Linked DNA regions of Homo sapiens: all the other regions are linked to region 1. Evidence: fine-mapped expression QTL. A gene starts in region 1. Each other region holds a variant in brackets. All regions are shown on one strand. Distances are between the middles of the regions.

Region 1 (10,807 bases):
GCATTTATTTGCTTACTGTGTACTAGACATTGTTCTAAGATTGTTGCATACTACATATATTAATTTATCCCATAGGACTGTTCTACTAATATCCCAACTGTGCAGATGTGGCACAGACAGGTTTAAGTGATGTATCCTGGGATACACAATTAGTAACTGGACATATTGGATTAGAAACTCAGGCAGTAGGCCAGGCTCGGTGGCTCACGCCTGTAATCCCAGCACTTTTGGAGGCCAAGGCAGGCTGATCACCTGAGGTCAGGAGTTCGAGACAAGCCTGACCAACATGGAGAAACCTTGTCTCTACTAAAAATACAAAATTAGCCAGGTGTGGTGGTGCACACCTGTAGTCCCAGCCACTCGGGAGGCTGAGGGGTAACAAGAGCGAAACTCCGTCTTAAAAAAAAAAAAAAAAAGAAAGAAAGAAAGAAAGAAAGAAACCCAGATTACAAGGGACCTTATGCCCTTGCTAAAAGGTCTCAAATATACCGTATCTGTTGGTGGTTCCCAGCTGGAAATATATACACCTACCAGGCTCCTGAGTGGGGTAGAGAGCATCTCCACTGTTGAGGATGATTGCCATTATAAGCCTTTGTTGTTTTCCTCCCGAGACAGGGTCTTGTTCTGTCACCCAGATTGGAGTGCAGGTACATGATCATAAGCTCACTGCAGCCTCGAACTCCTGGGCTCAAACAATCCTCCCACCCGCAGCCTCTAGGGCTAGGGCTGCAGGCGTGGGCCACCAGGCCCAGCTTAGTTACTTACTTATTTATTTAGAGATAGGGTCTCACCCAAGCTGGAGTGCAGTGGCACGATCACGGCTCACAGCCAACCTCTGCCTCCCAGGCTAAAGGAATCCTCCCACCTCAGCTGGGACCACAGGCATGTATCACCACACCCAGCTAATTTTTTATATTTTTTGTAGAGATGGGGTTTTGCTACGTTGCCCAGGCTGGTCTCGAACTCCTAGGCTCAAGAGATCCGCCTGCCTCAGCCTCCCAAAGTACTGGGATTACAGGCGTGAGCCACTGTGCCTGGCAATTTTTTTAATAGTTTTTGTAGAGACAGGGTCTCGCCATGTTGCCCAGGCTGGTCTAGAACTCCTGCGCTCAAAAGATTCATCCTCCTTGGCCTCCTACAGTGCTAGGATTACAGGCGTGAGCCACCACAGCCCAGCTGCCTTTTTTACTTTTGAGAGGGCATCCTATCTATCCTCCAGATGTTGAGGGTAAAACAAAACAAAAACAAACCAAAAAAACCATCCTGCTGTTATATAGATGACAGGGAGTTAATGGGCTCACAGGCAGACAACTCCAAAAACTACTCACAAGGAAGGAAATGCAGCTGTGAGTTCAGTCATACTATTTGAGAAGGTGCTCATCTCTCTCTCTTAAATGTGAAGCTCAGTGCTAGCTAGACAGGTAGGCTCAAAGCCCCATTACATCTCTTGGCCTTTCCCCTAGCGCCACCACCAAATTTCTAATTTCCATACATGCTATGTGCTTCAACTGTAAATAGTTTTCTTTTACAAACTCAGATACCTCTTGGCAGGTTAACACTGTTCAACATACCACTCTGGACAACCACAGCCTCTGCACCCTCTCTACTTTCTTTTTTTTTTTTTTAATTTTTATTTTTTGAGATGGAGTCTTGCTCTGTCACCCAGGCTGGGGTGCAGTGGCACTATCTCGGCTCACTGCAACCACCGCCTCCCAGGTTCAAGCAATTCTCCTGCCTCAGTCTCCCGAGTAGCTGGGATTACAGCCATGCACCACTATGCGTGGCTAATTTTTGTATTTTTAGTAGAAATGCGGTTTCGCCATGTTGCCCAGGCTGGTCTCAACATCAAGTGATCCACCCCCCTCCGCCTCCCAAAAGGCTGGGATTACAGGAGTGTGCCACCACACCTGGTCCACTGCTTTCAAAATAACTATATTTACAAGGGTATTTCCCCCATTTGCATTTCCCACACGTAGGTTTTGAGAAGAGATCAAGAATGCCCTTTACCACATTTTACCTGTCCTTTTTTCCCCTTTCAAACAAACTGGTCTAGGGGCCAAGCACAGAGGCTCAAGCCTGTAATCCCAGCACTTTGGGAGGCCAAGGCAGGCAGATCACTTAAGGTCAGGAGTTTGAGACCAGCCTGGCCAACATGGTAAAACCCAGTCTCTTCTAAAATACAAAAATCAGCCAGGCGTAGTGGTGCATGCGCTCCTCGGAAGGCAAAGGCAGAAGAATCACTTCAACCTGGGAGGCAGAGGGTGCAGTGAGCCGAGATCGCGCCACTGCACTCCAGCAGCCAGGGTGACAGAGCGAGACACCATCTCATTAAAAAAAAAAAAAAAAAAAAAAACAAAAAACCTGATCTGTATCAGTGCAAAGTTTGCCTATGTTGAATCACTGGGTAGCAGAAAACATTTCTTATTTCACAAATGAGACAAACAAGGCTTAAAGAGTGAAAACAAACTGCCTAGGGTCACCCAACCAAGGAGTAAAGAACTGTGACTTGAACCCTGATTCTCTGCCACCAAGCCCAATGAGAAAGGCTTACAACTAGTGGTAGGAAGGATGATTTTCAGTGGTTCTCAACACAAATATGAAAAACAGAAAGGGGATGCAAGTGACTCAAGTTTGGAAAACTGCACACGCCCCTCTGCTATTCTAACTGAAAGATGAAATTAATAGTAAGCAGGGCATTAATCACTGATCTCTTCCTAATTCAGATACTTAATTTTTCTTGTCTTCTTTGATTAGCTCCTCCAATAGAATAATAGAATACTGAATAGAGCCATAACTGATAATAGCTTTATCTTTTTTTTTTTTTTTTTGAGACGAAGTCTCACTCTGTCGCCCAGGCTGGAGTGCAGTGACTTGATCTTGGCTCACTCCAACCTTTGCCTCCCCGGTTCAAGCGATTCTCATGCCTCAGCCTCCCGAATAGCTGGGCCCACCACCATGCCTGGCTAATTTTTCTATTTTTAGTAGAGACAGGGTTTCACCATGTTGGCCAGGCTGGTCTCGAACTCCTGGCCTCAAGTGATCTCCCCATCTCGGCATCCCAAAATGCTACAGGTGTGAGTCACCTCACCCGGCCCGATAGTAGCTTATTCTAAGTTTAATACTGTTCTAAAGTTTCACCGTTAAGTATCATGTTTTACAGATTATTCATGGATGCACTTTTTTTGAGTTTATGGAAATTCCTTCCTATTCCTCACTCAGTAAAAATTTTTTTTAACTCATCTCTGGCCCACTTGTTTCCCTTCTCCATGCTGTTTTCCACCCACCACCCTTCCTTTCTTTCTTTTTTTTTTTTTTTTTTGAGATGGAGTCTTACTCTGTTGCCCAGGCTGGAGTACAGTGGCGCAATCTCCGCACACCACAACCTCTGCCTCCCGGGTTCAAGCAATTCTCCTGCCTCAGCCTCCCGAGTAGCTGGGACTACAGGCACGCGCCACCACGCCCAGCTAATTTTTGTATTTTTAGTAGAGATGGGGTTTCACCATGTTGGCCAGGATGGTCTCGATCTCCTGACCTCGTGATCTGCCCACCTCAGCCTCCCAAAGTGCTGGGATTACAGGCGTGAGCCACCGCGCCCGGCCTCCTTCCTTTCTTGTATTTCAGGTTCCTTCCTACATTCTACGCATCTCAAAGTACTATATCTGCCACTCAAAGTAACCGAAACGCTTTGATATTTTGGGGGTTCTATACCTGTCTGCTGTTTCAGTTCCCTGGACCAAAAAAAAAAAAAAAAAAAAAATCGAAAATTGACAATTGAAAGAAAATCCTAAGGCAAACACTGTTCCAGTCATTACTGAAGACTGCAGAGGTAAATGCAGATTATTTCTTCTCTCCATCTCTTTTGTTTGAGACAGGGTCTTGCTCTGTCGCCCAGGCTGGAATGCAGTGGTGCGACGTGGCTCACTGCAGCCTCGACCTCCCGGGCTCAAGCAGTTCTCCCACCGCAGCCTCCAGAGTAGTACAGGCGCGTAACATCGCTCCCAGCTAATTTTTGAATTTTTTTGTAGAGACAGGGTTTCGCCATCTTGTTCAGGCTGGACTCAAGTAATCCTCCCACCTCGGCCTCCGAAAGTGCTGCGATTACAGGCATGAGCCACCGCGCCCAGCCCTTCTCTATCTCTTAAACACATCCTGAAATGTCCTTTCTTTAAAGTAAAAACTCGGGGAAAAAAAAGAACCCAATAGTTCTAGATGACCATTTACTTTCCGGTATGTTGCCTAGCTCTGAATGAGCCTGGCTTTTTAAGTGGCTGGAAGAAGCTCAAAGTGTTTTTTTTAAGTTTTGAGGGAAGGAGCTGGATCCAGATGTTTATAACTTCGACTCTCTCCTTTGCTAAAATAAAAAGTATTAAAGAGAAAAGCAAAGGAAGAGGGGTAGTATGTGTAAGCAAATAAATTCCACACATGAAAGCTGAAGACACAAGGGAAAACCAACCCTTTAAAGCCCAAGCAAGTTAAGAATTCTCTCCCTCAATTTCTTTCAAAACAAAAGGGCACACACAATCCTTCCCGAAGCAGCAACGCCGGGGGGAGAAGCCAAAATGTTGCATCATACAGAACACTCCGCGCTTGAGAAACGAGAAAGCCAGTAAATGCCCAAGACAGAAAAACACAAGTTGGGAATCTCGGTCTTTTCCGAAGGTCCAAGAGCACCTGCTCTTTGGTAAATTTGTTTAAGATTGCATCGAAAATTAAAGTTTCCGTTTCAGACCAGTGGGGAGCAAATGCTTTTTCAAAAACGCGTTCAAAGAAGTTCGTTTGAAAGCTCATCGGGCGGCGGGCCGCAGTTCGGGCTCCGGGCGGCGGACCGGAGCGCTGGGGAGCGGGTGGGGCCGGGCCCCGGCGCCCGGGCGGGGGGTGGTGACAGGACCCGCGCGCGCCCGGCGCTGGGGCCCCGGGGCAGGCAAGTCCCGCCCGTGGGCTCTTCCCGACCCACCCGGGCGCGGGACGCTGGTCTGGCGTCCGCCGATGCCTACGCGCTGGAGACGGTGGCCGCCGCCCGGGTCCCCAACCCGGACCCCTCGACGGGCCCTCGGAGGCGGGAAGGCGCGGGCGGCCCCCAGACAATGGGCCGGGGGCGCGGGTGCCCGCAGCGGGACGGGTGCTGGCGCCGAGCGGGGGCGCCTCAGGAGAGCCCCGGGACGCCGCTCCCCGCAGCCGGGAGGGAGCCGGGGGATCTGCCGGGCGGGACCGCGAGGCGAGCGCTCACCTTGACGAAGAGCTCGATGAGGGGCTCTTTGTCCTCCTCCTTCAGCCCATTCAGCGGCATCGACAACGCCATGGCCGGCTCGGCTGCGCTCCGCGAACGGCGAGGGCTGCTGCTGCTGCTGCTGCTTCTGCTCCGGGACTGCTCCGGCTGCCGGTTCCCGCCGTGCTGCTCGCTGGACTGTCCGGCGTCGAGCTGGCCACGGCTTCAGCTCCTCAGCACCGCCCCACGCCCCCCGCGCCACTCTGAGCCAGCCGCAGCCCGAGCCGCTTCAAACGGCTGGGAGGGGCGCCGGGGGCGGGGCCTCGGGCTGTAGGCAGGGCCAAGGCGCGGCGCCTCGGGACTCTCCGGGGAAAATAAGGCGGCAGGAGCACGGGGGCGTGGCCTCGAGCGGGGAAGGCGGAGGGACCGCTCCGGAGCCGAAGAAAGGACCTCTGCGGCGCCCCACAGCTGGTAGGGGGCGTGGCCTTGGTGGGCGGTACAAAGCTCAGGCTCTGGCGGGCGGGACCCGGGTACGCCTCTCTAGGGGACTGGTGCGGGGGGGAAAGGAGGGGAGGAATTCCCCAGGGGCCCGAGCCTGACACTGCCTCCCGCCGCAGCGCCTGCGCGTCCTCCGCAGCTGCTGCTGTTGCTGTGCCAGGTGACCTCATGCCTCGGCCGCCCTGGGGAAGCTAGGAGGCGCCTCCTACCCACTCCCCCGCTGCAGCACCCCAGGACTCATCGCCCTTTCCCGCAGCGGCTACCTCCCCAAGTCCCTCTATTACGCGGAGTTGCCTTTTCCAAGACAACTTACTGGAAAGTTTTCATCGCCTGGGGAACACCTTTTTCTTCTGCCTCTGACTTCGTTTTTCCCTTTGACGCTCCTGATCGTTTCGATCTTGGCAGCCAGCATATTCACAAATATATATATATATATATATATTTTTTTTTTTTTTTTTTTTGAGACGGAGTCTGGCTCTATCGCCTAGGCTGGAGTGCAGTGGCGCGATCTCGGCTCACTGCAAACTCTGCCCCGGGTTCACGCCATTCTCCTGCCTCAGCCTCCCAAGTAGCTGGGACTACAGGCACCCGCCACCGCGCCCGGCTAATTTTTGTATTTTTAGTAGAGACGGGGTTTCACCGTGTTAGTCAGGATGGTCTCGATCTCCTGACCTCGTGATCCGCCCGCCTCGGCCTCCCAAAGTGCTGGGATTACAGGCGTGAGCCACCGCGCCGGGCGCATATTCACAAATATTTATGAAACCTTACTGTGTTTCAGGCTCTGAGCTAGCCCTTGGAGAGTAACAACTCCCAAAGCTCAAGATCTTGAACTGCAATCTCAGTGCCTGCAGGCCACTAAGGACTTCCAAGTCGTTGTCCATCTTGTTCCCCACTGCCCACACCCATTTCTTCCCCCCGGCTCACCTGTCAAATTTGAGTGTGCATCAGAATCACCTAGGTGCTACACGCAGCCCCGCTTTTTGTGTTTCCCAGATCCTCTGGGAAAAAGAGAAATCCACATCTTAGCAAGCACCAGGACAATTCTGAAGTAGGTGGTCCGCAAACCAGTTAAACTGCCCTGGGATTTAAGCCCCCGAGGGCAAGAGCTGTGCTTGCCTTGAGATTGTAGGCACCTGGTCCTAGTTTGCTGCTGTTGAGTGCCTGGGGCAAGTTTCACCTCCTCTGGAAACAATTACTTGTGCCCTTTTCTGACTTTCCATAATACTTGACTCACAGCTACTCCTCCCAACTTCCCAGGTTGGGATAAATAGTGAGTTCCAGGAGGCCCAGACATGGGAGGTTTGTCTCCATATCCTCGGTGCCTAGCACATACCAGAATGTTTGAACAAATTGTACGTAGGCATGAAAATACAGTGAAACTTGCAATTTCTTCCTCTGCCAGCCCAAAGTAAGTTGCTCAAATTTTCTCACAGAGGCTCTGTGAAAGAGCCAGTGTATCCCAGTGGTCAGGAACACGTGCTCTGTAGTCTGACTGTTTAAGTTCAAATCTGACAAGGCAGTGTCCTTAAAACCCCTAAGCCTCAGTTTCATTATCTAGAAGTGGGTGGGGCTAATTACTGATTCTTGCCTTACCATATGTGCTGCTCCGTCAGTATGGCTGTTAACTGCATTGAGACTTATTCTGTCCCTACCACCCCTGCAGGCTAGAATGTGGCATCATATTCTACTCTCTCTATGCCCGGCTAGTTCGTTGAAAATAAATAAATAAATTCCAGGAGGCTCCCCTTAGATGGGGGCTTGAACCATGAAAATCCTGAAGTGACTGACTAGACTCTGGACTGAACCGTGTTAATTTTTCATAGAATCATGAACTGAAGCAAAGTTTCCTTCCAGAATCCACCCTCTCTGCCCTACCAAAAAGGAACCAAATGGTGAATCAGTTCAAAGCAGATCTAAGCCAAAAAACAATTCAGCAGAAACTCAATGTACCTGAGAATTGATCAAATTGAGGCCGGGCACAGTGGCTCATGCCTGTAATCCCAACACGTTGGGAGACCGAGGCGAGTGGATCACCTGAGGTCAGGAGTTCGAGACCAGCCTGGCCAGCATGGCGAAACCCCATCTTTACTAAAAATACAAAAATTAGCCGGGTGTGGTGGCACATGCCTGTAATCCTAGCTACTCGGGAGGCTGAGGCAGGAGAATCGCTTGAACCGGGGAGGCAAAGGTGGCTGTGAGCCGAGATCACGCCACTGTACTCCAGCCTGGGCGACAGAGCGAAATCCATCTCAAAAAAAAAGAATTTGAGTTAGAGGCAGCAAATATTCCCGGTGGTGACTTGCCCTTCACAGGCTCCAACTGGCCTCACAGCACCAGGGTATGGAAGGAGGAACAGACCAGGGCCCTTTAGGCTTCATTGACTAAACAGAGATCTTAGCTAGGAGGAAGCCAGGGGCATTCTCCACAGAGCCCTGAGGTGGTGATGATCTCCTGGGCTCCTCCTACCCAACAGGAAGCCCCCCAGGAAGAGGCTCAGACCCAGAGCCTGTGCTTAGACGTAGTCTCAGTCACACCTACAGTTTCCCAAGTTCCGCCCTCATATGGCTCCCATGGATGGGCAGTCAGTCCTGGGAGTGGGTGAAAGGGAAAGAGGATGTTTATGCAGGGGAGGCCCCCTAACCACATAGCAGTCAAGTCTCCTCTTCGAATTTTGAATTGCATGCCTGCTTTACATTCTTTACTCAGGCTTGTTTTTATAGCACACAGAAATCTTTAAGATGGGTGGAGACATGTTGTCTCCTCCCACACACACCCCTCTGACCTCATCTCCTACCATTCTCCCCTGTGCTCTCCACCCCAGCTTCACTGGCCTCCTTTCTAGTCCTTGGATATGCGAAGCACACTGTGGCCTCAGGGCCTTTGCATTTGCTCTTCCCCCTCTCTGGAACATTCTTCCCCCAGAATTTCTGCAACTCCCACTCCCTTACTTCCTTTGGCTCTTTGCTCAAATGTCATCTTCTCAGAGCGCTCTCCCCAAATACCACCCTATGCAACGTTGCAAGTTGCTATCTTTCACTCCACCCTCCACTTTATCTCTCTTCATAACACTTACAACCCTCTGATACATATCTACCTATTTATCTGCTTATTGTCTGTCTTCTCCCACTAGAACATAAATGCCATAAGGGCAGGGATTTTTTGTTTGGTTTTGTTTATGGCTATATTCCTGGCTCAGAGGACAGCTCATGGTACACAATAAAAATTTATGGAGTGGGCCGGGCGCAGTGGCTCACGCCTATAATCCCAGGATTTTGGGAGGCCAAGGCGGATGGATCACCTGAGGTCGGGAGTTCGAGACCAGCCTGACCAACATGGAGAAACCCCGTCTCCACTAAAAATACAAAAAATTAGCCAGGCATGGTGGTGCATGCCTGCAATCCCAGCTACTTGGGAGGCTGAGGCAGGAGAATCGCTTGAACCTGGGAGGCAGAGGTTGCAGTAAGCCGAGATTGCGCCATTGCACTCCAGCCTGGACAACAAGAGCGAAACTCTGTCTCAAAAAAAAAAAAAAATAGCTTATGGAGTGAGTGACTGTACCATGTTTATCCTATGGTTTCATGTACCCCTGACATGACATTTGGATTGTCACGCTCTTCCAGTCTGGGAAGCCAGGTGGTTTGTGTTTATGACTGCCCCTACACAGGGGGTCAGGTTTTCCTCCAGTAAGCCTCCCTTGATGACACTTTCCTCCTCCCACTTCTAACTCTGTGGTGCTGCTCGCTGACTGTCTCAGCCCAAAGTTCTGCAATTTCAGCAGCAGAATGAGCTGCTATGCACATGGACTCTGGGGCCAGACTGCCTGGGTTCCAATCCTGCTTCTGTTATTTACTAACTCAGGATACTTACTTAACCTCTCTGTGCTTCATTTTCTCATCAGTAAAAATGGATCTAAATTAGTACCATTTTCTCGTCTGTAAACATGGATCTAAAATTAGTACCTATTAATATTTAATAGGATCATTGATAAATTAGTCTATGTTAAGAGCTTGGATTGTAAGTGCTCTGTAGACACTAGCTGTTGGTATTATTCCCATCTGTCCATATTCTTGACCGGTCACTGAGCTCTCACACTGCATGCCAGACACCTAGCTGGGTGCTTTCATATCCAATCATATTTATTCATCATGGTCTTGCAAGGCTTGATTTATTTATTTATTTATTTATATTTATTTTTATTTTTTTTGAGACGGAGTCTCACTCTGTCGCCCAGGTTGAAGTGTAGTGGCACAATCTCATCTCACTGCAACCTCCACCTCCCAGGTTCAAGTGATTCTCATGTCCCAGCCTCTCAAGTAGCTGGGATTACAGGCATGTGCCACCACACCTGGCTAATTTTTGTACTTTTAGTAGAGACGGGGTTTTGCCATGTTGGCCAGACTGGTCTCAAACTCCTGACCTTAATTAAGTGATCCACCCGCCTCGGCCTCCCAAAGTGCTGGGATTACAGGCATGAGCCACCATCCCCAGCATTGCAAGGCATAATTTTCATTGTCCCCATTTTACAAATAAGGAAACTGAGGGCCAGGCACGGTGGCTCAAGCCTGTAATCCCAGCACTTAGGGAGGCCGAGGCAGGTGGATCACTTGAGGCCAGGAGCTCGAGACCAGACTGGCCAACATGGTGAAACCCCATTTCTACTAAAAATACAAAAAGTAGCTGGGCTTGGTGGCAGGCACCTGTAATTCCAGCTGCTCGGGAGGCTGAGGCAGGAGAATCGCTTGAACCCAGGAGGCAGAGGTTGCAGTGAGCCGAGATCGTGCCAGTGTACTCCAGCCTGGGTGACAACAGCGAAACTCTGTCTCAAAAAAAAAAAAGATTTCCTCATGCTCCCCAGAATGGCATGCAACTTATTTTTTATTTATTTTTTTAATAGGAGAAAAGTCATACAAATTGATTTCACATACATACACAGGAGCCTTCAGAATGAAGACCCACCTCCCCCATGAATTACGGAAACTTATATATCATCTTGAGGTTACAGAAAGAATGGGAGCTTGCATCCTGGTAAAACAGGCTATGTGAAGGGGGAGAAGAATTCTGTTTAGGGGCAATAAGGGGTTGGGAAGGAGAATGACTGGATGG
Region 2 (10,807 bases), 54 kb after region 1:
ATGCCTGTAATCCCAGCTGCTCCGGAGGCTGAGGCTGGAGAATCACTTGAACCCAGGAGGCAGAGGCTGCAGTGAGCAGAGATTGCGCCACTGAACTCTAGCCTGGGCAACAGAGTGTGACTCTGTCTTTAAAAAAAAAAAAAAAAAGTATATTTTACATGCTCAATGTGTCAGTTTATTTTATGTCAATATGTCAGTTTATTGTATGTCAATTTTACCTCTGTGAAGCTGCGAAGTCACTATTGTGGAATCCCAGTGTGTAAAAGCTAAAAGCTAAGAATGGAGCAGCTCTGGATGGTGGGGTGAGGGCTGGAGTACCAGTCCCCATCTGCCCCTGAGGATTATCCACTTCACGCCTGGCCTCCACCTGGCACATTTTGAAAAACCACAGATGCTTTTGACAGAGCCTTGCCTAAAGTCCTGCAGACTGAGTTGAGCAGAACCAGGAGCAGAAACTGGGGTTCCTCCCTGTGTGGCCAGAACGCTGCAACAGGCACTGGTGATGGAGGCCATGTTCATCAAGGGCCTCAAGGATGGCCCAACAGCACAGCTGCTAACCAGCCCTGAGGGTCTACTCTGTGCTAAGCCCTAGTTCTTGGGGAGGGGTAAGGAGACCCCAGTTGCTTGTCCTCAGGGAGCTCTCCATCTACTTGGGAACAAGAAAGAACTGGAATTCAGGAAGCACCAGAAACAGAAAATGACACAGATGACTTGAGTGTCATCTGGGTGTCACACTTGAGTGTCCTGGGCTGGGGAGCTGTTGACCACACCCAGAGAGGGCAGCACATGTGGCATGAGCCTTTTCTCCAGCAGCCCAGGAAGAAGGCACAAGGAACAACACTTTGTGGCAGGGGTAGCAAGTGGTACGCCAGATCCACACTATGTAAATGCCCTCGAGGGAATGTCCCTTATTCCACAGTAGGGATGCTGATACCCAGCGAGGAGAAGGGACAAAACCAGAACAAGAGCCGGCGCCTCCTGACTCCAGTTCCAGTCACTTGCCAAAGCTGCCCCTTGGGAGGGTTTGGCATTTGTGCATCGCAGTGCTGGAGTCTGGTGTTCCCCTTGGTAGGACAGGCTATGGGGACTGAGTCCTGGACCATGAGGCCAGGGCAGGGCCATGACACAGGCTGAGGGGGAGGCATGCAACCTACCCATCCAGGCCTCTCCCCAGCTGTTGCTGGGTCAGGTGCTGACAGACTTTCTCCCTGCTGAGCCCTCTGGCATGCTTGGAGCTCAGTGGTGATAATCCAGAACTTCTCTTCCCTTGGAGGGCTCTTGCATGGAGGCAGAGTTCTAGATAAGGACCTAGAGCTTTGCCCTTTCTTCCGGCCCACCCTCCTCCTTTCCTGGGGACTTAATGAAGAACACCAGGGACGGAAGTAGTCACTCTTGGGCAGGGACACTTGGCCGCCCTAATCAGCCTGCCTACTTCCTGCCCTGGCTCCTGCTCTGAGATTAAGAAAAACAACAACCTCTTAAATTTAGACAACTTCTTTGCCATACATGGGGGATGCTCACATACATGCCCTTATTAAAAATGTTTTTACCCAATCCTCACAATTTGGATGACAAATTATGATCCCCATTTTACAGATAAGGAAACTGAGGCTGAGCAAGATGAAAGATTTACCCTGGCCTTAGAATTAGTAAGTGTTCAGAGTTTGTTCGTGAACCTAAGTCTTTGTTTTTGTTTTGTTTTGCTTTGTTTTGAGACGGAATCTCGCTCTTGTTGCTTAGGCTGGAGTTCAATGGCAATGGTGTGATCTTGGCTCACTGCAACCTCTGCCTCCCGAGTTCAAGCGATTCTCCTGCCTCAGCCTCCCAAGTAGCTGGGATTACAGGCGCCCGCCACTGCGCCTGCCACCGCAACTGACAAATTTTGGTATTCTTAGTAGAGACGAGGTTTCGCAAGGTTGGCCAGGCTGGTCTCAAACTCCTGACCTCAGGTGATCCATTCGCCTCGACCTCTTGATGTGCTGGGATTACAGGCGTGAGCCACCGCATCTGCGCAAGTCTTTGGTTTTGTACTTTTTTATTCTTTATTTTTTAAAGGTCCTCTACCATTTCCAAGACATAGTCTTTCTCTGTTTCCCAGGCTGGAGTGCAGTGGCACGATCACGGCTCACTGCAACCTTGATCTCTTGGGCTCAAGCCATCCTCCCACCTCAGCCTCCTAAAATGCTGGGATTACAGGTGCATGCCACCATGCCTGGCCCCTCAAGTCTTCGGACTCCTAGCTTTCCCCTCCCTACTCCTATCCTTGAGCTCCTGTGAATGCCTAGAGGGAGTGTTATGTGATCGAAAACAGATGAGTGCTGAGATGTTCAAGCTGAATTTGAATCCCAGTTACATGGCTTACTTTTGCTGGACTAGTTACTCCACCCCTCTGGGCTTCAGTTTCCTTATCTGTAAAAGGAGATAATTATAGTAACCACCCATCAGGTTTGATGTGAGAATGACACAAAGCAGCCACATGTGAAGTACTTGGCACATAATAAGCAGAAAGCACTTAGTGAACCACAGCTGCTGTTTAATCACGGGTCCTGCTGGTGAGGCCACGTCTGTCCCGCAGCTCTCTGCACGTACCCTGTCTTGCTGCTGAGCCTCTGTTGCCTCCAGTGCCTTGCCCCGTGTCCTTGCTGGCTGCTGGGAGGATCAGATGAGATGGTGAAGGGCAAAGGGCATGAAGTATGCAGCTTTTTCTCTGCCGGGGTATGAATGACCACGCAAGACCCGGTGTGTTGGAAGTGAGGCTGCTCCTAAAATTTCATCATCTTCTCTGGACAGAAGTGAACTAAGAAAACCCCAAAGCATCCTCAGATATGTTAATACAACCTTCTGCATTCAAAAAGGAGGAAACTGTGGCCCAGAGAGGAGCAGGGACTTCCTCAAGGTCACACAGCAAGGCTGAGTGGAAGCTGGCCCAGAGCTCTTCCCACCTGGCCACATGATTCCTCTGTCTTCCTTCCCCCGAAGGGACTGACCCAGAGAGACCTGGAAATTGTTGCCCAATGTTTAAGGGCAATTACAGGATGGAAAAGCCATGTCTTAGCAGGAGTGGCCAGTGGAAGGATGAGTACCATGGTCAGGAGTCCATAGAACAATGTGGTTTTCCTGTACCCAGCATCACTGGTGGCCATGGGACAGTAGTGTGTACCCACTATGTTGCCCAGGCTTGTAGTATAAAGGACCAAGGCTGAGCATGGTGGCTCACACCTGTAATCCAGCACTTTGGAAGGCCAAGGTGGGCAGACCACCTGAGTTCAGGAGTTCGAGACCAGCCTGGCCAACATGGTGGAACCCCGTCTCTACTAAAAATACAAAAATTAGGCCGGGCTTGGTGGCTCACACCTGTAATCACAGCACTTTGGGAGGCCGAGTGGGCAGATCACGAGGTCAGGAGATTGAGACCATCCTGGCTTACACGGTTAAACCCCGTCTCTACTAAAAATACAAAAAATTAGCCAGGAGTGGCGGTGGGCACCTGTAGTCCCAGCTACTCGGAGGCTGAGGCAGGAGAATGGCGTGAACCCAGGAGGGGGAGCTTGCAGTGAGCCGAGATCGCACCACTGCACTCCAGCCTGGGCAACAGAGTGAGATTCCATCTCAAAAACAAAAACAAACAAAAAAAAAAAACAAAAAAAAAGGACCAAGGCCAAATGTGGTGGCTTACGCCTATAATGCCAGCACTTGGGGAGACTGAGGCAGGAGGATTGCTTGAGCCCAAGAATTCGAGACCAGCCTGGGCAACATGGCGAAAACCCATCTATATTAAAAATACAAAAAAATTAGCCAGATATGGTGGTGTGAGACTGTAGTCCCAACTACTTGAGACGCTGAAGTGAGAGAATCATCTGAGCCTGGGAGGTTGAGGCTGCAAGTGAGCCATGATAGCTCCACTGCACTCCAGCCTGGGTGACAAAGTGAGACCCCTTTTCAAAAAAAAAGAAAAAAAATAGGACCAAAGACTGAGAAGGTGAGAAGGGTCCACCCTTCCTCCCCTAGAGTCTGGGCCCAGCTCCCACCACTGCCCATAAAAGGAGCATAGTCAGACAAGGCAGATCTGGAGGATAAGATGAGGAAGATAAAAATCATTCTTTGAATGGTATGACTTAGAAAACCTAGGTCAAACTGGCTTCACCATAAGGGGAATTAACTGGATTCGAGGTGAGTCCTCAGGTGAGGGCTTCCTCCAGCAGCTCGAGTGGCGTCACTACGGTGTGGTTTAAAATCAGTCCATGCGTTCTTTGGCACTTCCTTTAAAAGGAATCCTAGTTATGCTTCCCTTGGCTGTGGGCTGGACATAGTGACTTGCTTCTAATGAATAGAAAAAAAGCAAAGATGATAGTGTGCAGGTTGTAGAAGGCACTGTGGCTTCCTTCTCTCTATCACACACACAATCATCATCATCATCATCGTCATCGTCATCGTCATCATCGCTCTGGGGAAAGCTAGCTGCTATGGAGAGCCCGCTTGGTGAGGCACTGAGACCTCCTGCCAATTGCCACATGAGTGCACCATCTTCAAAGTGGATCCTCCAGCCCCATCTTGGAAGTGGATGACTGCACCCCTAGCCAACATCTTAACTATAAACACATTAGAGACCCTGAGCCAGAACCACTAATTGGGATCTCTTCCAATTTCCAATCCTCAACTCTGGCGACTCTGGGAGATAATAAATGTTTTTTGTTATTGTTGTTTTTTTTTGTTTTCAAGACAGAGTCTTGCTCTGTCACCCAGGCTGGAGTGCAGTAGCCCGATCTTGGCTCCTTGTAACCTCTGCCTCCCGGGTTCTAGCAATTCTCCTGCCTCAGCCTCCCGAGTAGCTGGAATTACAGGCGCCTGCCACCACGCTCGGCTAATTTTTGTATTCTTAGTAGAGACGGGGTTTCACCATGTTGGCCAGGCTGGTCTTGAACTCTTAACCTCGTGATCCACCTGCCTCGGCCTCCCAAAGTGCTGGGATTACAGGCATGAACCACTGCGCCTGGCCCAATAAATGTTTTAAACTGCTAAATTGGGGGTGATTTGTTACACAGCAATAAGTAACTAATAACACCACAGACTAGGTTCTATTTCTTCTTTCATTGTTTTCTTTTTTTCTTATTTTGGAGACAGGGTCTCCTTCTGTTGCCCAGGCTGGAGTGCAGTGGTGCAATCACGGCTCATTGCAGCCTCTATTCAAGCGATTCTCCTGGGCTAAAGTGATCCACCCATCTCAGACTCCCAAGTAACTGGGACCAAGTAACTGGCTAATAAAAAAAGATTTTTTTTTTTTAGTAGAGAAGAGGTCTCACAATGTTGCCCAGGCTTGTCTTGAACACAAGCTGAAACGATCCTCCCGCCTTGTCCTCCCAAAGTGCTGGGATTGCAGGTGTGAACCACTGTGCCTGGCCTAGGTTCTTTTTCTTCTTGAAGTCTCTGGGCTCTGCCTTCCTCTGTATGTTGACTTCATTCTCAACAGAAATTTTTGGGAATAAGAGCTACTGCATCTCTAGCTCTCACATCCCCTTAACACACTGTCCAGGGAAAGAGAGTACCTCTTCCAGTACTCCTGTAGAAATGAAAAGCAGCTTCTCTCCCTCAAAAAGCTCCACTGACTTCTCTTGGCAAATCCTTGGCTCTGACTGAGGTAGTGTTCATTTCTGTGACTAGAGAGATTGGATGCATATGGCTTCTCCTCCAGGGTCATCAGAGCCCACCCTGGAAGAGTGCTACCAACCCCACCCACTAGCATAGAATTCCAGTAGAGCCCAATATGGCTCTGATGGTGGGAGAGACAGGGAACATATGCTGGGAAGCCATGTAATAGCCATGACATCGGGGTAGTACGTGGAAGGCTCAGAACAGAAAATTCCCCACAGGCCCCAGAACATCCTCTAGAGCAGCAGTCCCCAACCTTTTTGACACCAGGGACCAGTTTTGTGGAAGACAATTTTTCCACAGGCAGCAGGAGCATGGTTTCAGGATGAAATCTTCCCACCTCAGATCATCAGTCATTAGATTCTCATAAGGAGCACAAAACCTAGATCTCTCAAATGCACACTTCACAGTAGGGTTCGTGCTCCTATGAGGATCTTTTTTTTTTTTGACTGGAAGTCTAGCTCTGTCACCCAGGCTGGAGTGCAGTGGCTCGATCTTGGCCCACTGCAACCTCCGCCTCCCGGGCTTAAGCGATTCTTCTGCCTCAGCCTCCTGAGTAGCTGAGACTACA[G/C]GTGCGTGCCACCACACCCGGCTCACAGTGAGCCAAGATTGTGTCACTGCACTCCAGCCTGGATGACAGAGTGAGACTTCATCTCAAAAAAAAAAAAAAAAAAAGGCCAGGCACGTGGTGGCTCACACCTGTAATCCCAGCACTTTGGGAGGCTGAGGCGGGTGGATCATGAGGTTAGGAGTTCGAGACCAGTCTGGTCAACATGGTGAAACCCTGTCTCTACTAATAAGGCTTAGAGGTGAAGGGGTGGGTTCTGGAGTCAGACAGACAAGATCTAAATCCTGGTTCTATTGCTCACCAGCTATGTGACTTTCTTTTTTTTTGAGACAGATTCTGCCTCCCAGGCTCAGGAGATCTTCCTGCCTCAGCTCCCAGAGTAGCTGGGACTACAGGTGCGTGCCATCACGCCTGGCTAATTTTTTTGTAGAGATGGGGTTTCTCCATGTTACCAAGGCTGGCCTCAAACTCCTGGGCTCAAGCAATATGCCTGCCTTGGCCTTCTAAAGTGCTAGGATTACAGGCGTGAGCCACCGCGCCCAGCCTATGTGACCTTTGTGTGCCTTGGTTCCTTCATCTATAAAATGGGAGAAGAATGCCCAGGAACACAGGTGGAAGAATTAATGAGATGCAGTAAGGGCTCAGTGCTGGAATTACAGGTGGGAGCCACCGCACCCAGCCTGTGTGAAAATTTTAAGAATTAGAATCAGGCCGGGCACCGTGGCTCATGCCTGTAATCCCAGCACTTTGGGAGGCCAAGGCAGGTGGATCGCTTGAGCCCAGGAGTTCAAGACCAGCCTGGGCCACATGAAAAACCCAGTCTCTACAAAAAAATTTTTTTAATTAGCCAGGCATGGTGGCATGCGTCTGTAGTCCCAGCTACTTGGGAGGCTAAGGTGGGAGGATTGCCTGAGCCCAGGAGGTCGAGGCTGCAGTGAGTTGTGATCATGCCATGTACTCCAAGCCTGGGCAACAGTATGAGACCCTGTCTAAAAAAAAAAAAAAAAAAATCAGAATCACTTTGCTCTAAAACAGATCTTTCAGATAATAAGAGCAGAGCTATGGCAGCCAGGTGTGGTGGCTCACACCTGTAATCCCAGCACTTTGGGAGGCCAAGGCCAGCGGATCATCTGAGGTCGGGAGTTGGAGACCAGCCTGAGCAACATGGAGAAACCCCATCTGTACTAAAAATACAAAAATTAGCTGGGCATGGTGGCACATGCCTGTAATCCCAGCTATTCAGGAGGCTAAGGCAGGAGAATAACTTGAACCTGGGAGGTGGAGGTTGCGGTGAGCCAATATCACACCACTGCACTCTAGCTTGGGCAACAAGAGCGAAACTCCACGTCAAAAAAAAAAAGAAAAAAAGAGTAGAGCTATCTGTAGCTATTAAAGAAGAGAAAAAATAAGAGGAAAACAATATTTGCTGAGGATTTATTATGTACCAGGCATGGCACTAAACCTGTTTAGAGGTCCTGTCTCATTTAATCCTCACAGCCTTATGAGGTAAATACTATTATTAACCCTGTTTCACAGGTAATGAAACAGATGCACAGAACAACTGAGTGTGTTCATTGACTGTCATTCATTCACTCAATGCCTCGCCTGTGCCAGGCCTTGGGGACTCCCCAGTACACAAAGTAGACAAAGGCCCAAGTCGCCTGCTGTTGAAGGACTAGAAAGTGGGTTCCCTAGGACCCTCGGGGGAGCGTCTTCAGAGCCCAAGTGCATGACCACGATGGAACGGGATCCTCATGAAGTAGTGAGTTTCCTGCCACTGAAGGTATGCAAGTGAGAGCTGGGGACTTGCTGGGAAGGAATTCCCGCTTGGGATGGGCTGGAGCCAGTGGACGGCAGGAGCCCTGTAGCTGTTCTTCAAGTTCTGCAATCCTACAGGGAACCTCTGAGCACTGAATCAAAGCCTCCCACTTGCAGGATAAAAGGTGGGGAGGAGGAAAAAGGAAAGGGGAAGAAAGCATGGAGAAGCCGGAGGGGCAGGACTGACCTCAGGGCATCAGCTCCACAGCAGGCACCCAGGCCCGGGTGCCACCTAGTGGAAGGCTCAGAAAACGAAGAGAAGGCCAGAGAGAGGGACAGAGACGAAGAAATTGAGAGTGACGGATGAGTGTGTCCCTGAGCTAACTCAGGAGCCCTACCTCAGTGTCCCAGACCCTTCTGAATAATGACACTGGATATAGTGAAATTTAAGACTTTTTTCCCCTGTATTTTGACCTCTCTAAAGTCAGATACGTCTTACAATGAATGCGGTGGTGGTTTAATAGGTGGTGGTGCATCCTACAATTGCACGTATGTAAGATTTGATGGAACACTGAAAACTGTCATTGATGGAGCCCTTGTGACATGCCAGGCATGAGCTAAGCCCTCTACCTGTATGATGTTATTGAATCCATGCCCATTTAACAGAAGAGGAAACAGAGGAGGCTGAGGGAGGTGAAGTCATGTGCCCAGGTCTCACAGTAAGTATGTCTGTGGCTGAGAAGCTGGCTGCAGGACTGCTGACCACTGCTACACTGCACAGCTCCCCTCTCTGTGTCACCAGTCACCTTGTTTTATCACTGCCTGAGTGTCCCCTGGCTCCCACCCTCGACCCCTGCCCACATGCCATGATCTCCGCTGGGACAGGGCCTGTGTTTCATTTGTCTAATTTAATGCTCACAAAAACCCTGTGAAGGTGGGTACCATCACTACCATTTGACCTACAGAGGTTAAAGTTTAAATAAATAGAAGCATCTGGCTGGGTGTGATGGCTCATGCCTGTAATTCCAGCACTTTGGGAGACCGAGGCGGGCAGATCACTTGAGGCCAGGAGTTCCAGACCAACCTGGCCAACATGGCAAAACCCTGTCTCTACTAAAAATACAAAAATTAGGCTGGGCATGCTGGCTCACGCCTGTAATCCTAGCACTTTGGGAGGCCGAGGCGGGTAGATCACCTGAGGTCAGGAGTTCGAGACCAACCTGGTCAACATGGTGAAACCCTGTCTCTACTAAAAAATACAAAAAAAATTAGTTGGGCATGGCACGCTCCTGTAATCCCAGCTACTCGGGAGGCTGAGGCTAGAGAATCACTTGAACCCGGGAGGTGGAGGTTGCAGTGAGCCGAGATTGCACCACTGCACTCCAGCCTGGGCGACAGAGCAAGACTCCGTCTCAAAAAAAAAAAAAAAAAGTATGCTATAATTCTAGTTCATATTATGCCCAGTGAAAAAAAGAATATTAAATATTATGTGTATCTGGTATGATCCTGATATTTGTAGCTATGAATGTACTTATAGAGAAAAAACCTGACTCATTTTATATATTAGAGGAGAGGAGCTCAGGGTGGGTTCGGTGTAGCCAGGTAGGACATTTGACCTAGGACAGGTGTCTTTGATTATATTAGGATGGTGGGATTGCCAATAATTTTTTCTCTAGATTTTTATGTTTTCCAAATTCTCTAAAAATGAGCATGTCTTTTTAAAATTAGAAAATATCCTATAAGGCCAGGCGCGGTGGCTCACGCCTGTAATTCCAGCACTTTGGGAGGCCAAGGAGAGCAGATCACTTGAGGCCAGGAATACCAGACCAACCTGGCCAACATGGCAAAACCCTGTCTCTACTAAAAACACAAAAATTAGGCTGGGCACAGTGGCTCATGCCTGTAATCCTGGCACCTTGGGAGGCCGAGGCGGGTGGATCACCTGAGGTCAGGAGTTTGAGACCAGCCTGGTCAACATGGTAAAACCCCGTCTCTACTAAAAAAATACAAAAAAAATTAGCCGGGCATGGTGGCACATGCGTGTAATCCCAGCTACTGGAGAGGCTGAGGCTGGAGAATCAGTTGAACCTGGGAGGTGGAGGTTGCAGTGAGCCAAGATCATGCCACTGCACACGCCAGCCTGGGCAACAGAGCGAGACTTTGTCTGAAAGAAAAAAAAAAGGCATCTAAAATTATTTTTAAATGACTGGGTAAGAAATTTACAACGGGGAGGACTGTGGCTGTGTTTTGATGTTGGCATAGGGGTGACTTTTATTTATTTTCCAATTTTCCTGGCCATAGAAAACACTTTTAAAATGTATGCTATAGCCGGGCACAGTGGCTCACACCTGTAATACCAGCACTTTGGGAGGTCAAGGCGGGTGGATCACCTGACGCTGGGAGTTCGAGACCAGCCTGACCAACATGGAGAAACCCTGTCTTACTAAAAATACAAAATTAGCCGGGCGTGGTTGGCACATGGCTGTAATCCCAGCTGCTCGGGAGGCTGAGGCAGGAGAATCACTTGAACCCGGGAGGCGGAGGTTGCGTTGAGCTGAGATCACACCATTGCACTCCAGCCTGGGCGACAAGAGCAAAACTCTGTCTCAAAAAAAAAAGAAAAAAAGAAAAAAAAGAAAAGAAAATATCATATTAAATGCATTTATAAGTCCAACAAAGATTTGGACAAGAAAGGACATACCAGGCTAGGTGCAGTGGCCCACCCTGTGATCCCAGCACTTTGGGAGGCCAAGGTGGGAGGACTGCTTGAGCTTAGGAGTTTGAGACCAGCTTGGGCAACGTGGCCAAACCCCACTTCTACCAGAAATACAAAAA
Region 3 (10,807 bases), 29 kb after region 1:
TTGAGCTAGATACAGAGTGTCCATTGGTGTATTTACAATCCCTTAGCTAGACATAAATGTTCTCCAAGTCCCCACCAGACTCAGGAGCCCAGCGGGCTTCACCCAGTGGATCCTGTACCAGGGCCACAGGTGGAGCTGCCTGCCGGTCCCGTGCCGTGTGCCCACACTCCTCAGCCCTCCGGTGGTCGATGGGACTGGGCGCTGTGGAGCAGGGGGCGGAGCTCGTCAGGGAGGCTCGGGCCGCACAGGAGCCCACGGGGGTCGGGGGAGGCTCAGGCATGGTGGGCTGCAGGTCCCGAGCCCTGCGGCGTGGGGAGGCAGCTAAGGCCCAGCGAGAAGTCGAGCACAGCAGCTGCTGGCCCAGGTGCTAAGCCCCTCATTGCCCAGGGCCGGTGGGGCCGGCCGGAGGCTCCCAGTGCGGGGCCCGCCGAGCCCACGCCCACCCGGAACTCGCGCTGGCCGCAAGCACTGCACGCAGCCCGGGTTCCCACCCGCGCCTCTCCCTCCACACCTCCCCGCAAGCTGAGGGAGCCGGCTCTGGGCTTGGCCAGCCCAGAAAGGGGCTCCCACAGTACAGCGGCGGGTTGAAGGGCTCCTCAAGCATGGCCAGAGTGGGCGTCAAGGCCGAGGAGGCGCCAAGAGCCAGTGAGGGCTGGGAGGGCTGCCAGCACACTGTCACCTCTCAATCCCAGCACTTTGGGAGGCCGAGGCGGGTGGATCACCTGAGGTCAGGAGTTCAAGACCAGCCTGATCAACATGGAGAAACCCTGTCTCTACTAAAAATACAAAATTAGCCAGGCATGGTGGCCGGTGCCTATAATCCCAGCTACTCGGGAGGCTGAGGCAGGAGAATCGCTTGAACGTGGGAGGCGGAGGTTGTGGTGAGCTGATATGGCGCCATTGCACTCCAGCCTGGGCAACAAGAGCAAAACTCCGTCTCAAAAAAAAAGAGTCTAGCAAACCTTTCCAGAGACTTCTCTTGGGCCAGCCTTCCCCATGGACTCTTGGCAGGTGGCTTCTTTCTTCAGGCTCTGAGATTTCTCTACATTCATCCTTCCCGCTGCCTTTCAGGTCTCAAGCCTTCTGCCCTCCTGCCCCATTTCCTTACCCAGAGCCCTCTCTCCTGTCCTCCAGGCCACGGCCAGGAAGAGGGCAGTGCCTTTCGCACCCAAGAAAGTCATCAAAGTATTTGGCCATGCAGAACCTTCATCTCTCCAGCCAAATGCTATGGCCTGGTTTTGTGTGTTTGTTTGTTTTCTGAGACGGAGTGTCGCTCTGTCCCCCAGGCTGGAGCACAGTGGTGCTATCTCCGCTCACCGCAACCTCTGACTCCCTGGTTCAAGTGATTCTCCTACCTCAGCCTCCCGAGTAGCTGGGATTACAGGCACGCGCCACCACGCCCAGATAATTTTTGTATTTTTAGTAGAGGTGGGGTTTCACCAGGTTGGCCAGGCTGGTCTCAATCTCCTGACCTCATGATCCACCTGCCTTGGGCCTCCCAAAGTGCTGGGATTACAGGCGTGAGCCGCCGCGCCCGGCCTGGCTTGGTTTTTAAACTCACATGTGTTTCCTCCCTGGGAGTCTGTGAGGTCCCTGAAGCTCCATGGTGGGTGGATTCTGGCCTGTGGCTCCAGGGCCCGGCCTTATTCCAGTGAGTGTCCAAGGGAGGGAGGATGGAGTTGGCGACCCCTTGCCCTTCCTGTCCTGGTCCCACCTCCCAATGAGTCAGCTTGGAGCCAGGCCTCTTGGCCTTTCCTGTTCTCCTCTCTGGCTCCGGAACAACAGCCGGATGTGAGCTGCGCCCAGGCTGTTTTGGGACTTGGCGGACTGGCAGGTGTTGGCTGACTGTCTCCTGGAGGCCAGGCCCATGACTCGGTTCCCCACATCCCACAGCCGGCCCCTGCTCTCGCCCAGAGGATGGGAGAACCCCATCCCAAGAGATGAGCCATGGATACCAGTGGATGTGTGGGTACTCAGGGTACCCCAACTCCTGAATAGAGGGGACAGGGTCAGAGAAGGCCAGAGGATGAACCCTGAAGCCAGAGGTCTTGGGTTAGAATCCTAGGCATGTTACTTTAACTCTGCCTCAACTGCCTCATCTGTAAAATAACGATGGGGATAATAATAGTCATTCTCTACAAGATTGCTGAAGAGTAAGGCCGGGGGTGGTGGCTCACGCCTGTAATCTCAGCACTTTGGGAGGTCAAGGCGGGCGGATCACCTGAGGTCGGGAGTTTGAGACCAGCCTGACCAACATGGAAAAACCCCGTCTCTACTAAAAATACAAAATTAGCCAGGCGTGGAGGCACATGCCTGTAATCCCAGCTACTCGGGAGGCTAAGGCAGAAGAATTGCTTGAAGCCAGGAGGAGGAGGTTGCAGTGAGCCGAGATTGTGCCATTGCACTCCAGCCTGGGCAACAAGAGCGAAACTCCGTCTCAAAAAAAAAAGATTGCCAAAGAATAAATGCATTTATATCTGTAAAGCACGCAAAGGAGTGCCTAGCACATGAGAAGCACTAAGTTCATGTTTGTTACATGAAAAACATAAATTCAATAAACATTTGCTAAGGGCCCACCATGTGCAGGCCCAGGTCAGGTGCTGGGGACACAGTGAACAAGGTGGACACAGCAGCTGCCCCAAGAAAGGGCATCGGGCATCTCCCGCAGGGGGACCAATTCAGTACATGAAGCGGAGCCTGGGAATCTGTTAGGGCATGGCGCTTACGGTGAAGCTGAAATTTCCATGAACAAGGCTGGGTGCAGTGGCTCATGCCTGTCATCCTCATGCTTTGGAAGGCTGAGGTGGAAGTATCCTTGAGGCAGGAATATCCTTGAGGCCAAGAGTTCAAGACCAGCCTGGGCAACATGGTGAGACCCCTATCTCTACCAAGAAAAATTAAAATCAGCTGGGTGTGGTGGTACATGCCTGTAGTCCTAGCCACTCAGGAGATTGAGGCGGAAAGATTCCTTGAGCCCAGGAGCTATGATTGCACCACTGCATTCCATCCTGGTGACAGAGCCCAACCCTGTCTCTATTTTAAAAAAAGTTCCGGCCAGGCACGGTGGCTCACGCCTGTAATCCCAGCACTTTAGGAAGTCGAGGTAGGCAGATCACTTGAGGTGAGGAGTTCAAGACCAGCCTGGCCAACATGCTGAAACCCCATCTCTGCTAAAAATACAAAAAGTAGCCAGGTGTGGTGGCGCACACCTGTAATCTCAGCTACTTGGGAGGCTGAGGCATGAGAATCGCTTGAACCTGGGAAGCGGAGGTTACAGTGAGCTGAGATCATGCCACTGCACTCCAGCCTGGGCAACAGAGTGAAACTCCGTCTCAAGAAGAAAAAAAAAAATTCCCTGAACAAATAGGGAAACTGACGCCTTGGGGAGGGGCAGGGAGCTGCTTGGGATCACTAAAAATTGGGGATCGCTTTTTTGTGAGGGGCACATAGCTGCTATTGTATTATTGTTTTTTGATTGTTCCCAATTTACCAGGGAGGAACTGAGCCAAGAAGTTAAGTAACTTAGTTGAGATCACATGACTAGGAAATGGTAGAGCCAAGATTGAACCCCAGCCAGCCTGGCTAACCAAACAGTAGCATGAGGCTGATCATTAACTGTCTTTTACTGAATATCCACAACATACTTGCAAAATACATCTTCTTCCTCACACCACCCGATGAAGGAGGTACCATTAAGGTCCGCATTTCACAGATGAAGGAACTGAGCCCCAGGGAGGTTGTGTGATTTACCCAGGGTCTCACTTCTAGGCAGTGGCAGAGTTGAGGTTTCTCGACACAGGGTTGTCCTGCTGCCCAAGACCTCTTAATTCCCAGCTGGCTTTCCCTGGCCAGGCTAGAGCCAGTGCCATCCCCCATCCATCCCATCCCTTCTAGGGTGTACGTGCAGAGAATGCAGAAGTCATTGAACTACGGTCTGGACAAATGGGCATTATGAGCAGGGTCCTTCTGCCAAGCAGCCACAGCCAAGTGGATGCTGTGCTAGACTAGCCACCTCCCCCCTCCCTCCAGCTTGACCCTAAAGTCCAGGATTCTTTGGAAAGATTAGACTCCACTAGGCTGAGAACACCGCGGTGCCAACAGCAAGGGCTTCAGCTCTACTGTACCCTCCACACACATTATGTGAAGGTGAAATTTCACAAGTACCCCAAGAAGAAGGTTCTAGTACTATCCTCATTTTTCAAGAGGCAGGACAGTAGAGGGGTAAGAGCATTGACTTGGAGCAGAGGCTGCCTGGGTTCCATCCCCTACCCGGCCACTAGGTCTGTCCAAGGCTCTGTCCTAGTCATGGCCTTGCTTACTTAACCTCTCTGGACCTCAGTCTCTTTATCACTGGGAAGAGGACGAGACTGGTACCTACACCTCATAGGGAGGATAAAAGAACTAGAAGTATTAGGATATGGGCACAGCACATAATGAGCACCATGTGTTTGCCATTTTATGGAAACTGAAGCTCAAGAAAGTTATATGACTTGGCCTACGTCACATGAGTACCACATGGAAGAGCCAGGACTTGAACTCAAGTCTGTCCAACTCCAAAGCAGCCCTCTCCTCACATACTCAGGGCATTGAGCTCCTTGATGGATGAGTAGAATTTTTAGATTGAAGGAAGGTGGACAATTCAGGTTGTTCACAGAGATGGGAATGGGCTGCATAGCAACTAGTAGTAGTTCCAGGGTGAGTGCCACATCCCCACAGCTCTAACATCCAGTCTGATGGATATTCAAGTCACTGGACACAGGATTCCGAGCGCCTACTCTGTGCCAGGTCAGGTACTAGGTATTGAGAAAGGAGAAAGAAAGCACACACAGTTCATGAAGCTCAACAATCCAGTGGGGGAGATGGATGGGCAAGTGAATCACTATGATACAGTGAAATAATGGCTCTATAGTGCTGAAGACAGGTGCAAATAGTAAATTCTCCCTGGGAAGCAGTTGAGGAAGGCTCCATGGAGGAACTGGCATTTGAACTGGACCTTTAAGAACTGAGCAAGGCCTGGCACGGTGGCTCACGCCTGTAATCCTAGCGCTTTGGGAGGCCGAGGCGAGTGGATCACCTGAGTGATTCAAGTTTGAGACCACCCTCACCAGCATGGTGAAACCCCATCTCTACCAAAAATACAAAAATTAGCCGGGCATGGTGGTGCATGCCTGTAGTCCCAGCTACTTGGGAGGCTGAGGCAGGAAAATCACTTGAACCCGGGAAGCGGAGGTTGTAGTGAGCTGAGATTGCGCCACTGCACTCCAACCTGGGCGACAGAGCAAGACTCTGTCTCAAAAAAAAAAAAGCTGAGCAAGTTCAAAACAGGAAAAGTGAATCCACCCCAGACAGAGGGCCTAGCAGGAGCAAGTGCAGAGAATCACAAGGCACATGGGGCATTCAGGGGAGTGGAGAGTTCCATATGCCCCAGGCAGGGCCGATGAGACTGCAGAAGTGGTTCAAGGTCAGAGTAGGAGGGCCTTTCTGTTGGTCAGAACTCCTGGGTTGCGAGAGACAGAAAACGCAATTCCAAGAAGCTTAGGAAAAAAGAAAATCCGTTGACTCAAAAAACTGAACATTCACCTCCTTTGAGAATGAAAGTTAAAAAGAAAAAACAATAGAGTATATTAGTGTATTTGCTTCAGGTATAGCTCAAATAAATGCTTTCAAGACTTGGCCTCTCTCTCTTCTTCTCTGCTCCTCTCTGCTTCTCCTTGCATTGGCTTCACTCTGAAGCAGGCCCTTTCCAAATGGAGGCTCCAAGCCCAGGGCAAAGAAAGATTCATTTCTCCAGATATTTATTTATTTATTTATTTTGAAATGAAGTCTTGCTCTTGTCCCTCAGTCTGGAGTGCAATGGCGTGATCTCGGTTCACTGCAACCTCTGCCTCCCGGGTTCAAGCAATTCTCCTGCCTCAGCCTCCGGAGTATCTGGGATTACAGGTGCGTACCACCACGCCCAGGTAATTTTTTGTATTTTAAGTAGAGACAAGGTTTCACCATGTTGGCCAGGCTGGTCTCAAAGTCCTGACCTCAGGT[G/A]ATCCATCCGCCTTGGCCTTCCAAAGTGCTGGGATTATATGCGTGAGCCACAGCGCCCGGCCCATTTCTCCAAACATTTATACACAGGTTCTGAACTTGAATTTCATTGGACTGGTTTAGGTCACGTGACTATGTCTAAACCAATTGCTGTATAGAGGTGGTGGGAGTGGAGGTGGAACAATCGGATTGATCAAGTTGGGGTCACATGTCTAATTCTAGGCCTGAGCTCCACTCGAAACATATGGACTGAGAGTGGGGGCCCAGGTGCTTCCCCAGAAATAGAGAGACTTGGAGCTCATATGGAAAAGGAATGGATGCTGAGTGGGCAAGATGACAGCCTGAACACTGAGGTCATGGTCTTTTAGGTAGTGAGGAGTCAGTGAGGGCTTTAATTTGAGGACAGAGCAGTTTGGACTCAACTTGGGCTTTGTGAGTGAAGAAGGGAGAGATGATGGAGACAGAGATGTTTGTAGATGAAAATCTCTTTGAGAGATCCTGGAGACCTGGGGTAGCAGGCATGGAGAGGAGGGGGAGAGGCAAAGGCTGCCTGGCTGGGATGCCCCAGTTGTTACTGGAAGGGCTGCTTCAAGGACCAAGACCACGTCACCCCCTGGCTACGGGCCTTCAGATGCCAGCAAGAGCGTGGGCTAAGGGCCCAGCCTCCCTGCCCCGCAATGCCCATGACTAACTCTTTCCCTCCATCTGCCCCCGCACTTACTCACCCCCACTGGGCCCCAGAGAATCTGATCTCTCATGGTCCCAGTTGTGAGGTGGTCACCTTGTCATAAGGTGCTGGTAGTGGTGGAGGCTGGGCACCTTCACCCCTCCCAGCCTTAACAACCGCTTTCTTAGTTTCTAACCTCCCACCCCATCCCCCTGGGGCCTGGAACATCACCCCGTGGGCTCCAGGCAGGCCAGCTCCTCTCCCTGGTGAATGGAGCCATTGTAAGATCAGCCTAAGAGCTGGCAGGCACTAGCCTGGCACACGTGGCTCTCCCAGAGTCCCTAAGTCCAGCCATTCTTGGTGCTGGGTGCTTGGGCCTGCTCAGAAATGAAAGAGGAGGACTGAGGGGGCTTGGACTGCTGTAGCAGGTTTCAGGACCTGCTGCAGCTAGGCCCCTGAATATACTATGCTCGGCCTCAGGTCTGAGGGAGGAGGCTGGGGGCCAAGGCTTGACCCTGGAACCTTCAAAACTTTGGAGCAGGAGGGACTTGCCAGTTGGGCCCTGATATATCGGGGGCTTTTACCAAACTGAAAGCTGTGATGTGATAGAAAATGCCAGAACTCTGTTCCTGGTGGTCCAGCCAACCCCACAGAACTCTGGAGGGAGAGGCAGGACACTGAGGCCATCCAGGAAAATTATGAGGTTTGGGAGTTGGTGGTAAGAAAGTGGGGAGTTTGGGACTTGCCATTTCACCACAGACTGCCTTCCAGAGCCTTCCAGACGGAGCCTGGGGTGATGGTGTCAAAATACTTAGCTACTGTTTATTGAAGACTTATTAAGTGGTTAAGCACTGTGCCCAGAACTTCACATACCTTATCTCATTTAGTTTTTATAACATCCATGTAAGGCAGGTATTATCATTATTCTCAGGGCTGTCATGTACTGTTGCCCAGATTGTTCACTGCACAAAGGTACCCAGCCATAGATGAGTATGTGAAGGCTAAAATCCACCCAGTGCTCTACTCACCCACTCTGCTCCTGTTGGGTCTGTGTCTACTATAAGAAGGTCCTCTTTTTCTTATGTTATAGCTGGGAAGTTAGGCTCTGAGAAGATGAAATTACTTGTCAAAATCTTCATAACAGGTAAGTGTAAGATCAGATCTGCTGACTCCAAAATCTCTCAATGAACCACTGTACCCTCTATCTTCAGGCTTATGCACTCACACTCCTCTCTGCTCTTCTCTTTCCTCGGGACCCAACTGCTCACAGTAGGCAACGTGGCAGGAGGCAAAAGCCTGGGCCAGGAGATAGGAGACCTGGGTTGCAGGCCTGGCTCCACCTTAGCATTCACCTTTCCTCTTCACATCTTGGTCTCCTTATCTGTAAAGTGGGAATTTCAATTAGAGTTCTTTAGAAGCAAGAGAAACCAACTTGAGCTTACTGAAAAAAAAAAAAAAGGAAGGCAGTGGAAGAATCTGGGGCTGCCGGTAGAACGGAAGGAGGAGCTAAACTAGGCCTTGGATAGACCAGAAACCTCACTCCAGGGATCCAGCAATGGACGTTTGGGCTAGGTCCCTGTGGCATCCCCATGTCTATGTGAGCCACTGTGCCTGGGAGAGGGACTCATGCCCAGCTCATAGGGATTGCCTGAATCAAGTGGGCTCTGGGTGGGGAGGCTCTCTGCAGGCTGCAAAGTAGATGTGATTCAAGGGAACATCGTATATGGCTCTGTTCCTCCTGTCCCAGGAAAATGTGTGAGCAAGGCCAGCCTCTGGCCCTGGCTTGCCACTGACTGACTGCCCAAGGTTACGTGTCCTTGGGCAAGTCACTTCTTCTTCTGGTCCAGAGTTGTCTACAGAAGGTAGATGATTATCTGTAAGGCCAGTTTTTAGCTCACTAAGGTGTTAGCAACTGATTCCAGGGAATTTCAGACATTCCTGGGAGCAGTTGTTCAACCTAAAAGAATGAATCATGGATGGTGGAATTTTAGGCATCCATGAAGATGATGTTGGGTGGAGTTTTTGTGTGGTCACACCAAGTGGAAAAATGTCCACTGCACGTAGGAGACCAAGTGGGGAGAGGGGCAGCCTGGGCACGGTACCCCTACTTCGCACCTCCAGGACCTCTGCCATGAGAGGGCTACAGAGATCCCGCTCAGGGGCAAGAGGTTGGCCACATTTGAGAGCTGGGTCACTGGAAGGGCTCCAGGCAGAGGAAGAACAGCTGGCTGATGGGAGACATGGAGCCTCCTGACCACTCCTATCCCCATGCCTTTGTCAAACGGACACACATATTCATGGCAGCCGGCTGAGGCACTGTGCAAAAAGGACATCGGTTCTCCTGTCTGGGCCTCAGTTTCCACCTCTGTCAAATGGGGTAAGGTTGCTCTAACCTCATGGGGTCTTTCTAAAAATCAAATGGGACAAGACATCCGAAAGAAAACCAAGGAAACTTAGGATCTTGGTGCTGAATAAGGACTAGAATGTCAGTGTCATGGAGCAGGTCTTCTCTCTGTCTTCTGCACTACTGTATCCTCAGTGCAGCATGGAGCCAGCTGCATAGTAGGTGCTCAAAACATTATTTATTGAGGCCAGGCACAGTGGCTCACACCTGTATTCCCAGCACTTTGGGAGGCTGAGGCAGGCAGATCACTTGAGGTCAGGAGTTCGAGACCAGCCTGGCCAACATGGTGAAACCTGTCTCTACTAAAAAAAAATTACAAAAATTAGCCAGGTGCGGTGGCTCACGCCTGTAATCCCAGCACTTCGGGAGGCCTAGGTGGGTGGATCATGAGATCAGAAGTTCGAGAGCAGCCGGACCAACATGGTGAAACCCCATCTCTAATAAAAATACAAAAATTAGCTGGGCATGGTGGTGGGCGCCTGTAGTCCCAGCTACTCGGGAGGCTGAGGAAGAGAATTGCTTGAACCCAGGAGGTGGAGGTTGCAGTGAGCCAAGATCACGCCACTGCACTCCAGCCTGGGCGACAGAGCGAGACTCCGTCTCAAAAAAAAAAAAATTACAAAAATTAGCCGGGTGTGGTGGCGCTTGCCTGTAGTCCCAGCTACTTGGGAGGCTGAGGCAGGAGAATTGCTTGAACCTGGGAGGCGGAGGGGAGGTTGCAGTGAGCCAAAATCGTGCCACTGCAACTCCAGCCGGGATGACAGAGCAACAAGACTCCATCTCAAAAAAAAAAAAAAAAAGTATTGAGTATTAATAAGTAATATCTATAGGTTTTTATGTTCCAAGCATTGATCTGAATTTTTGTTTTGTTTTGTTTTGCTTTTTGAGATGGAGTCTCGCTCTGTCTCCCAGGCTGGAGTGCAGTGGCATGATCTTGGCTCATGGAACCTCTGCCTCCTGGGTTCAAGCGATTCTCCTGCCTCAACCTCCGGAGTAGCTGGAATTACAGGCATGTGCCACCATACCCGGCTACTTTTTGTATTTTTAGTAGAAAGGAGATTTCATCATGTTGGCCAGGCTGCTCTTGAACAGGTGATCTGCCTGCCTTGGCCTCCCAAAGTGCTGGGATTACAGGTGTGAGCCACTATGCCCGGCCTGATTTTGTTTTATAGAGACAGGGTCTCTCTCTGTCACCCAGGCCAGAGTGCCGTGACACAATCATAGCTCACTGCAGCCTTGAACTCCTGGGCTTAAGCGATTTTCCTGCTTCAGCCTCCCAAGTAGCTGGGACTATAGGTATGAGCCACCACAGCCAGTGGTCTGAATTTTCCAGGTATTCATTCTTTTAATCTTTACAATAATATTGGTACTGTTATTATCATCCCCGCTTTGGAGATAAAGAAAAAGAGATGACGTCACTTGCCCAAGGCCATGCACCTAGTAAGAGATAGAGCTGGATTTTGAACCTAGGTAGTCTGGTTCTAGGGTCCTCTCTTAAGCATAACTCTACCTGCTGAATGGCTGGCTAAGTGAGCAAATTGAATGAATACATGAATGCATGAACAAGGATATGAATACATGGAATTTGGGTTTCAGACTCCTCAAAGCTTTTACTGTAAGAACATGGGCCGAGGCCGGGCGCAGAGGCTCACGCCTGTAATCCCAACACTTTGGGAGGCAGAGGTGGGTGGATCACGAGGTCA

What was found. PIP is the estimated chance that this variant, and not a neighbour inherited with it, causes the effect. A credible set is the group of variants that fine-mapping cannot tell apart.
Region 2: its variant is the best candidate, but not a certain one, in a credible set for the expression of CLIC4 in whole blood (INTERVAL, PIP 0.65).
Region 3: its variant is the best candidate, but not a certain one, in a credible set for the expression of CLIC4 in whole blood (INTERVAL, PIP 0.64).

The regions. Positions count from the first base shown.
Region 1 is chr1:24,740,046-24,750,852 of GRCh38, reverse strand. CLIC4 (chloride intracellular channel 4) reads right to left here and starts at 5,406. Exons shown (of 6, transcript NM_013943.3): 1 at 5,228-5,406. The coding sequence starts at 5,299. RefSeq lists silencers at 1,294-1,373, 4,835-4,994, 5,095-5,804 and enhancers at 4,886-5,491, 5,492-6,097, 7,310-7,915.
Region 2 is chr1:24,686,186-24,696,992 of GRCh38, reverse strand. No RefSeq gene overlaps it. Among named protein-coding and RNA genes, the nearest start is that of SRRM1, 48 kb to the right of the region's middle. RefSeq lists a silencer at 1,369-1,488. The variant G/C (reference allele first, on the strand shown) is at 6,218.
Region 3 is chr1:24,711,221-24,722,027 of GRCh38, reverse strand. No RefSeq gene overlaps it. Among named protein-coding and RNA genes, the nearest start is that of CLIC4, 29 kb to the left of the region's middle. RefSeq lists enhancers at 1,616-1,910, 6,130-7,329. The variant G/A (reference allele first, on the strand shown) is at 6,037.